2 separate regions of the Homo sapiens genome follow, and region 1 is linked to region 2. The links come from fine-mapping of genetic effects on gene expression. A gene starts in region 2. The other region holds a variant in brackets. All regions are shown on one strand. Distances are between the middles of the regions.

Region 1 (4,380 bases), 120 kb after region 2:
CAGGAAAGTTCCCGAAACCCAGAACACCAGTAACCCAATGGAATGAATTTAGTCAGCCTCGGCTCAGCATCCAGGCTCCTCTCTGACCCCCAGGGGTGGACGGTGACTTGGAGAGAAAGGGCAGGGGAGAGCTCAGTCCCTCTGGGGCTGCGTGCTCACGGACAGTCCCTTAGGGGCGTTAAGGAAGACTTTTGCCAGGTGGCTGAGGAGCAGCCAAGGCAGCAGACACAGGTTGGTGACTCCAGAAGGAAGTAGAGCCGCCAAGCCAGGCTGTGGTTTCCTGAGTGCCCCTGACCGTGGGTAGGGGAGAATGTTGTCTTCTCTTCCCTCTAAGCACGGCCAGCTGAACTTCTAGGAGTTACGTGGATGCTGAATAACAAATGCAACCACAGGACGACTTTAGGTGGGCAGAGAGGAGGGGGAAGGAGGAGCTAAGTTCCACCTGCAGCCAGCGTGGATCTGACCCCACCTGCTTGCAGCAGGCTCAGGGGTGCCTGACATTTCAAGACTCAGGCAGAGGGCTTACTGATACACAGTGACAATGAACAGGGCGGAAAGCGTGTACATGAGTGGCCAGGAAGGAAAGCTGGTCCTGCATAGTCATGGCGCACAGAGCACGCATCCTGAGGGGATACCTCCCCTCTCTCCTCTCGTTTCCGTCCTTCTTCTGCACCACTGACTCTCACTCCTAAAGCCTCCAAAAAGAATCTTTGCAGAAACCCAAGATTCCTTTTGGTTTGAACTTCCAAGGCTACACTAGCCCACTCAGTAGGGCATAACCTTTAATTACTGCTGTCTCAATTAGCTCTGCAAATTAAATTCTTTATATTTGAACCATGACTTTTCATGGAAAACAAAAAGGAACAAACCAGGTTAGTGAGGCCAAGAGAATTTCCGATTCTGATCAAAGTTACATCTGCTCCATTTACAACTAGAGTCAGGAGAGGCAGAGACAGCAAGTGAGCCTTTTCCTAGTCTCAGAATCACTCATTAACATTTTCAAAAAGTAATTATTATATTACTAAAATACATGACCTCCACCCCAAAATCAGATCCACCACATATTTTCAAGGAAGGGCCTGTCACCTTGGACTTACAGGTCTTCTCCCTCACTTCCCTGCATTCCTCTCTCGTTTTGAGAGTAAGGCTTGCGGGAGAGCAATACTGCTGTCTGTGTTCTCAGAGAAATTTTGTCTTTTACTAATTCTGGCGAGAAACATCACAGATTTTATTTCAAAGGTTAGTCCTGCTAAAATGCAAGAACAGAAGCCTCTAGAGGAATCTCTGTGTTGTCCACCAGTCAAATGATAAGTAAGGAAGTGCCTCCACTTGCCAGATAAAGGACTGGGGACCAGGCAGATTTCAAAGAGCCCGTGGGTCAGAGCCGGGGCCTGCCCTGTGCGTATTCTCTGGCAGACAAGGAAATGTTTTCCTGAATGAGCATTCTTATTTTGTATTTAAACATGATGGTACATACAAGCTTAGTTTTACCATTCTTTCTAAATTAAGCTGCAAAGAGCTGTTTGGTTTCGGGAAACTTTTTCTTAGCTGTTTTGTGTGGAACTATGATTAGACACCGTGTAACATGCATTTTGAAAATTCGGGGACCGATATCTCAGTGTTGAAAATGTTTTGTTTTAACCTCTCTAAATTGCCAGGAAATGAAACCACATGGGCTGTTGAATTTGGGAAACACAGGCTTAGAACTTGGTATTAATCTTACCAAGAATCAAAAAAAAGTTTTTTTTTCAGTTTCTTTTT[C/T]GGTTTCTAAGGGCCATTAGTGATCCTCCACCTCAAAGCTATTTTTCTTTTTCAAAAAGCGGAAATTTAAAATGAGCTGCTTGTTAAATGCTAACCTTTTAAATGTCAACATTTTTTTTCTATTAAAAGTTAAAGAATAAGTGAGACGACACTTTCAAATGAAGGTGACTTTACATTGTTCCCCTGGAGGAATGAGCCATCAGTTAGTGTGGTCAACCCCAAAACTTACGGGGATGCACAAGGCCGCCTACTTAAGATGCATCAGTAGTAGAGATCAATAGATACAATTTTTTTCATTGCTTAGTAACTGGCTTATGAAAGCTGAAGAGGCAATCATTTTCAGAAACCTCCTGTCAAGTTTTTTGTTTTGTTTTTTGTTTGTTTTGTCTTAACATATCTGAAGAGAAACAAGGAAACTTGCTGAAGTTAGGACACCCAAAATGAGCCCTTTTAAAAATGAAGTGCACAAATTATTTTATGCTAAGTTAATTAAGACAACCTACTTATTTGTCACTGTAAAGCAAGGCAAGGAATCTCATTGCGCTTTTCAAAGAACGTAAGAGGACAGAAATAAATCATTGTGTCGTGCTGCTTTAAGCTGTATCTCCTTATGAATACCTACAAACCCAAAACACAGAACACCATATGGAGCGAGCAGTCCAGTTTTGCGCACACAACAAACATGAAAGAGAAGTGCTGTCGCTCTACTACTACTATGTCCCCAGGTGAAAAGTTCGCAAAATGTAAACAAGATCTAGAGCAGATGAAACTCACGGTAGACTTGCTCCATTCAGCTGTGGCCCTAACACCTACAGCCAGCACTGTCACTGAGTGCAGGAGTGGATGGTGCAGAGCGCCAAGGGGAATCAAAGACGTGACCCTTCCATCCAGGTGAGCAAAGGATGAGTACTCAGAGGGCTGGACTGCACCCTCCCCTCCCCATCCTGTGCTTCTGACTCTCAGATCCACTTCTGACTCTCACTTCCAGCTTCTGACTCTCAGATCCACTCATGGTCCCATATCGTGGATTTATGGAATCCTTTCCCGAGTCTATTTGTACTTTTAGCCTGTTCTGTCCCTTAGGGATTGACAAATCCCACGATCTGGGCCTGCCCTGTAAAACAACTATGTGGGGCCTGACCTGGCTGCTTTTTAGCTTGAAGGGGATAGCAGAGGGTAGAATGCTGGTTACATTTAAAGCACCCTGCTCCCAGATCCAAAAGAAAGTTTCTGCTTTTTCCTAAGGAGTTGAAACAGTCTGGGATTTTATCTGATTTTGTTATTTTGCCTACAATGACAAACACTGCTTTTGTTTGTTTTATCATGTTGTGTTTTTTGCTAGATGAGTGTTTATCATGCCGGCTGCACCCATCCAAAGCAGTAAGGTTGTTGAAAGCCAAAAGCAGCAGAAAGGCCCAAAGAGATCACCCCACCTCACCCACAGGCTCACCTCTGCAGGTGTCTTCAGACAGCTGACTCTTAACTCTCATCTCAGCAACAGTTTCTAAGATAGAGAGTGGAATAAAGAGTCAGCATTCATCCATTTCTTCGATGTTTTCTCCTTTACCCCATGTGAACCAAGTTTCTTGGTAACGTGCAGCTAGGACTCACACAGACGAAAAGCACAGAGCCACAGGCCTTGGCTGGGTTATTGGAGCTAGGTGCACAGGAAAAATAAAAGTGGGTGCTCCAGGACATTATATATATAGTCCTGGGCTAAAGGTGGCCTTCAGGGCCTGAAAGATGGATAGCTGTACCTCACTAGGAATTATCCCACCTCTTGCTTTGCTTGTGGGAGCTTTCAGTTTGCAGCTAAAGGCTCAGGTTCCGGCCAGCTTTTTCCCCTGTAGCATGCTACCAAATCCGGCCATCTTCCAGTTTTGAGCAGAGGAGGTGAGCGTAGCTGTGGAGACACATATTCTTCTGCAGGCCCATGTCGGGGTGGCCCATGAAGAGAATTTGCCAAAGCCAGCTGGCTCAGCAGACCAACAGATGAAGGTGGACTACTCATTTGCAATTGTGATTAATGATCATTTATTTCCATGTGACAAAGCTTTGAACGATGTGGGAGGCCCTCACCCATCCCTGAGTGGGAATAACTGGGAATGATTCCATGACCCTTTCCCTTTATCTGGCAATCCTTTCAAAGATGAGCTCTGGAAAATGTGAACAGACAATGCACTCCACTATAGCTTTCTAGTTTCACATCTTCAAACACCAAAATGTTGACACCCATTGGGATGGTTATTATAAACACATACACACAGAGAGAGAAAATAACAAGTGATGGTGAGGATGTGGAGAAATTGGAACCCTTGTGCATTGTTGGTGGGAATGTGAAATAGTGCAGCCACTGTGGAAAAAAGTACGGCAGTTCCTCAAAAAATTACACAGAGAAATACCGTATGATCCAGTGATTCCACTTCTGGGTATATGCCTAAAAGAATCGAAAGCAAGGCTGGACACAGTGGCTCACACCTGTAATCGCAGCACTTTGAGAAGCCGAGGTGGGAGGATCGCTTGAGGCCAGGAGTTCAATGCCAGCCTGGGCAACATAGTGAGATCCCACCTTTACAAAAAATTACAAAAATTAACCAGGCATGGTGGCGTTGCCTGCAG
Region 2 (4,380 bases):
AGGCTTCTTAGGATGCTCTAGGGGAATGGGCATCATTTGTCCCACTGAGGAAGATGAGAGCAAGTGGTCCAAGGGTTGAGTGGAGGTGCTGGGAACAGAAACCCACCTTCCATCTCCTTGGCTAGTGCACTTGGAGGTTGCAGATAGAATTTTAAAAGCATCCTGCCAATGCTCCGTGATAGGCATGGCCATCTCCCATTCAGCTTTGTTTAATCAGATTTCCTTCAAGGGACTCCCGCACTCTCGCAGTTCTACCGGGGCACTGGCAACCCTGAGATGACTCTAGCTCTCCCTGGAGGGCCTTGAAGGTAAGGTTCAGTCACCAGAGAGCAATAACCTCTTCTGGCTGCTTGCCCTTTGCAGAGCAGACAGGACTGGACCCAGACAAGGCGGATTCCTTCACAACTGCCCTGACGAACTGTGTACCCCCAGCCTCGCCCTGTTGGGCTGGGCGCATCCTGGCAGCGCTGGGGCTGCGAAGCCACAGCCCCTGCATGTGCCTCGCGGTTGGGCCTGGACGCCGCTCTTCCTCCAGGTAACTTCGTGAAACGCTAGGAGGCAATCGCCCAGCCTCACTGCGCCTACGTAGCCCACGAAGGGATCTTGCTGGGTTCTCGGAGGTGGCCCCAGCGCTTTCCGAGGGCCGAGAGCGTGGGCGTGGAGGGAAGGAGGGGCCTAGTGGGCGGCGGGCCCACCCCTTTATTCGTGGCCTGCGGCTCCGCTGAGCGTGACCAGATGTGTTGGTGACAGGTTGCTACTCAGAGGTGCGGACAGGAGCTGAGCGCTGCTGCTGTCGGAGCAGACGCGGCGTTCCCGGGTTGTGCTCAGCCCCTGCAGCTGCCATCGGCTGGAGAAGTCCAGGTTAGGAAACGCATCCGGGGAGGGGATCCTAGAGAAGGGGCGCAGCCAAATACCCGGGAGGTGGGATAGGTGGGAGGGGAGTCGCTGGACTCGGCGCCAGGGCAGATGGTGGACAGGGCGCGCTGGCCCGCCCGGCAGTTCCCAAGGAACCTATGTTCCTGCAGAAGCCGCAGGTGTCCGTCTTGGGATAACTGCGGAGGGAGCCAATCCAGCCCAGCTTGGGCGGGAGCATCGCGTGCCCTGGTCCAGTGGAACGGGAGACTGGCCAGCGAGCCTGGACTCTGAGCTAAGCGTACTGGCGGGCGACGCCGACAGCGTCCGCGCTAAGGGTGGGGGACTGGGAAGTGGGGAGTGGGGCACTCGGCCGGGATGGAGAGAATGCAGTTCACTAACTGCCACCTGAGAGCCCTGGTCCCCGCTGCCGCCACAGCGGGTCTGTTTGGCAGTCAGGGCGCGAGCTGGTGAGCGGATGCGTGGGCGGAGGGACTGGCGCTACCCACCCAGCAGCCACCCACTGCAGGTGAGTGCCCCTCCCAGGGCGAGGGGAGGAGAAGGGCCTGGCCGCTAGCCCTAGGGTCAGGCTCTGGTGAAAATGGGAAGGGGGATGGGGGCTGAATAGGCTACTTTGTGATGAGACTCCCGTCCCTGTGACACTTCAGGGTCCTCTGGGGATCTGTCATTCCTCTTGCAAGCTCTCTTGTTCTCTGGTCCCTCTCCTCCTCTCCTTATTTCCTCCTCTCCTCTCCTCTCCTCTCATCTCCTCTCCTCTCCTCTCCCTTCATCGTGTCTCTACCTCTATCTCCGCCGGTGCCTCTCTCGGTATCTGTCTCTCAGTCTCTGCCTTCTCTGTGTCTCGTACGGTCTCCTGTCTTTCTTGGTCTCTCGGTCCTGAGCGCTCTCTCGCCCTGTCACTGATGACCGCTGGCTTTTGGCTCTCCGTGCTCGCTCTTCGTGTGTCCCGGCCACGCACGGCTCACCAGCTCGTTTTCCCCAGACGCGGAAAGTCTACCTTCGGCGTGCGGGTTTCCCAAGCGCGCCGGGCCCCGCCTGCGGCCCTCCGGCGGGCTCTGTCTGCTGGAGGCGCTCCGCTAACCCTGCTGTCGCCTCTTTCCACCAGCGCACCGCCTAGGCAAGCCAGCTGACGCCGGGGGCACAGACCACCCTCCACTGAGTGCGGAGCAGCCAAGGTGAGTGCACCGATGCCCCTTCCGCCCCTCCGATCCCTCCCCAGCTGCCCTGGTTCGAGCCGACTGGAGAAATGAGGCTGCAACAGCGAAGCCAGCCTGCGGCCGCTTTCTCCTCTAAAGACTGGTGGGAGGGCCCGGGAGGCCCCTCGGGCGGCCGCAGCTCTTTGGCTGCCCGCTGCCCCATCCCGGAGTGGAAACCCTGAGTTTCCAGGCTTCGGGCTGGCGGGGTCGCGGGCAGGGCAGCGCGGCTTCCCCTTTAAGGCCGGAGCCGCTCGTCGCCGTGAGTGTGAGGGTGTGTGAGTGTGCGGCGTGCGTGTCTCCTCCTCCCCGAGTGACACAGCAGTGAGAAATGCCTATCAGTAACTTAAACCCCCGAAACTCCACCTTCCGGGCGCGCGGCGCGGAGCCGGGCGGTGGGAATGGAGCGAGCAGATTGAGGCCGCCACTGCAGCGCCGCCAGCATGAACTTGGCCGCGAGCTGAAGCGGCCGGCGGCGGGCGGGCGCGGGGGCACCGGCCGCTAGCCAGGGGGTGATCTGCAACAGGGCTGGGTTCCTTGGCGGCCGCCTGAGTCCAGGCTGCCCGCGCCGGCGGCCGCCCGCCCCTCGGACACTGCCCCCGCCGCCGCCGGAGCTCTGCAGCACGGTAAGGCTGAGGGCGGGTGCAGGAAGTCTGACTGTTCTGGGGGTTCCGGGGTACACTTGTAGCCCCCAGTTATGGTCCCCATCGCTGAGGATCGGGGTCCCAGGGGTGCTTCGAGTCGGTAGACCCTAAAGTTTGCTCTGAGCACACGGCCCACCTGGCGCTGCGGGCGGCCACCCCCTTCTCGAACCAGCCCGGCTGGGCTGGGCGCAGCTCGAAACGCCGGAGACCACGGCCTTTGGCTCGGCGCCCGTCGGGCGTCTGAAATCCGGCGGGGACAGCCACGTACCGGGGAGGAAAGGTAGAAGGGCGCAAGCTCCTCGGGCTACGCTGGGCTACTGGGAGGCTCCCACTCTGTCCCAGCACCCCCGGGTCGCTTGCAGCCTGGGTGTCACCGGCGACGGTGCCTTCACATGCCAGCTGCCTGAGCCCAGGCCAGTAGGCAGTGGGCGCTGGATGAAGGATTTCCCCACCCCAACGCTGTTTGCCGCCTCTGAGCGAGAGTGTGGAGTGTGCGCGCCGAATCCGCTGCCCTGCACTCCCTCCCCTGCCAACTCCTGGGAAGCGCAGCCCGGAGCTGAGCTGGTGTTCAGGGCAGCCCGGACTGGGTTCCTGCGGAGCAGCCCCGGCGCCCCTGCGTCAGAGTCCGCGCTTCAGGTTCCCCAGCATCCGCGCGACGACAGAGCTGGGCGCCCGGCGCCGGCTAGCGCGGGCGGGAAGCCCCCCGGAGCGCCGCCAAATACTTTTCTCGGCCAGTTGGCTTGGCCAGGCTCCGTCCCAATGCAGTGTGTCCGAAGCCTCCTGGAAAGCTGGAGATGTCGTCTGATTCTGATCCGTGATTAAATTCGGACTGAGCAGACACTAATAGGATTAGCCTGCCAGAAAGCTCGGCCCTGAAGCCATCGGAACCTGTGCAAACACGCGCCTCGGGCTGGAGCATTCACTCCCGCCCCGCCGCGCTTCTGCAGCTGGGTGCGGCTGACCTGGGCACCCGGAGTGTGGGTGTGTGTGAGCGGGCGGGAGCACAGCGTGGCTGGGGGACGTGGGGAGAAGGGGCTGCTTTTGCTGGGGTGGCTTGTCGTTGTTGTTTGGCACCACGGTGCCCCCCGGGGGCGCGGTCCCCACGGTGAACGTGCTGCTCACGGGTAGGCAAACCCAGGCCGGCTCCGGGACATTGTCTGCAAGGGCGAGCGAGCCGAGCTTACTAGAGGCGGCTGCGCTGGAACAAAGGCGCAAAGTCTCCCTGAGACCAAGCAATTTTGAAAGAGTTGGCTAGGGAGAGGGCCTGGGTCTCCCGGGGTAGACCCCCGCGGGAATTGCGCCGCCCCCAGCGGCCCCGGCCCGCGCCTGGGGAATTGTGTTCCCTGGTTGCGGTGAGCCGGCGAGCGACATCGCAGCGGCGCGGCCCAGCTCTTGGCAGGCGTGGGTTGCCGCCCGAGTGCCCACCGGCCGGGCGGGGTCGACCGTGCACCCGCCGGGGCTTCCCGGCCGCCACCGCAGCTCTGGGCCCCTGGAGGCCGCGCAGCTTCTTTCCTTCCCTCCCTCCCACCTCTTCTTGTCTTTATAGATCCCCCCTCCCTCCCACCCCCGCCGCCGCCGCCGCCAACAATCCGCTTTATAAAAAGCCCCTTTGTTTCCCAGGAGGCTGGAGAGAGGGAAGGGGAAAAGGGACGCAGAGGCAGAGGGCGGGG

What was found. PIP is the estimated chance that this variant, and not a neighbour inherited with it, causes the effect.
Region 1: its variant is fine-mapped to the expression of MAMLD1 in blood mononuclear cells (TOPMed, PIP above 0.99). The same link has a PIP of 0.9 or more in whole blood.

Annotation. Positions count from the first base shown.
Region 1 is chrX:150,477,331-150,481,710 of GRCh38, forward strand. All of the region lies in intron 5 of MAMLD1 (mastermind like domain containing 1), which reads left to right. Among named protein-coding and RNA genes, the nearest start is that of MTM1, 89 kb to the right of the region's middle. The variant C/T (reference allele first, on the strand shown) is at 1,762.
Region 2 is chrX:150,360,839-150,365,218 of GRCh38, forward strand. MAMLD1 (mastermind like domain containing 1) reads left to right here and starts at 2,479. Exons shown (of 8, transcript NM_005491.5): 1 at 2,479-2,692.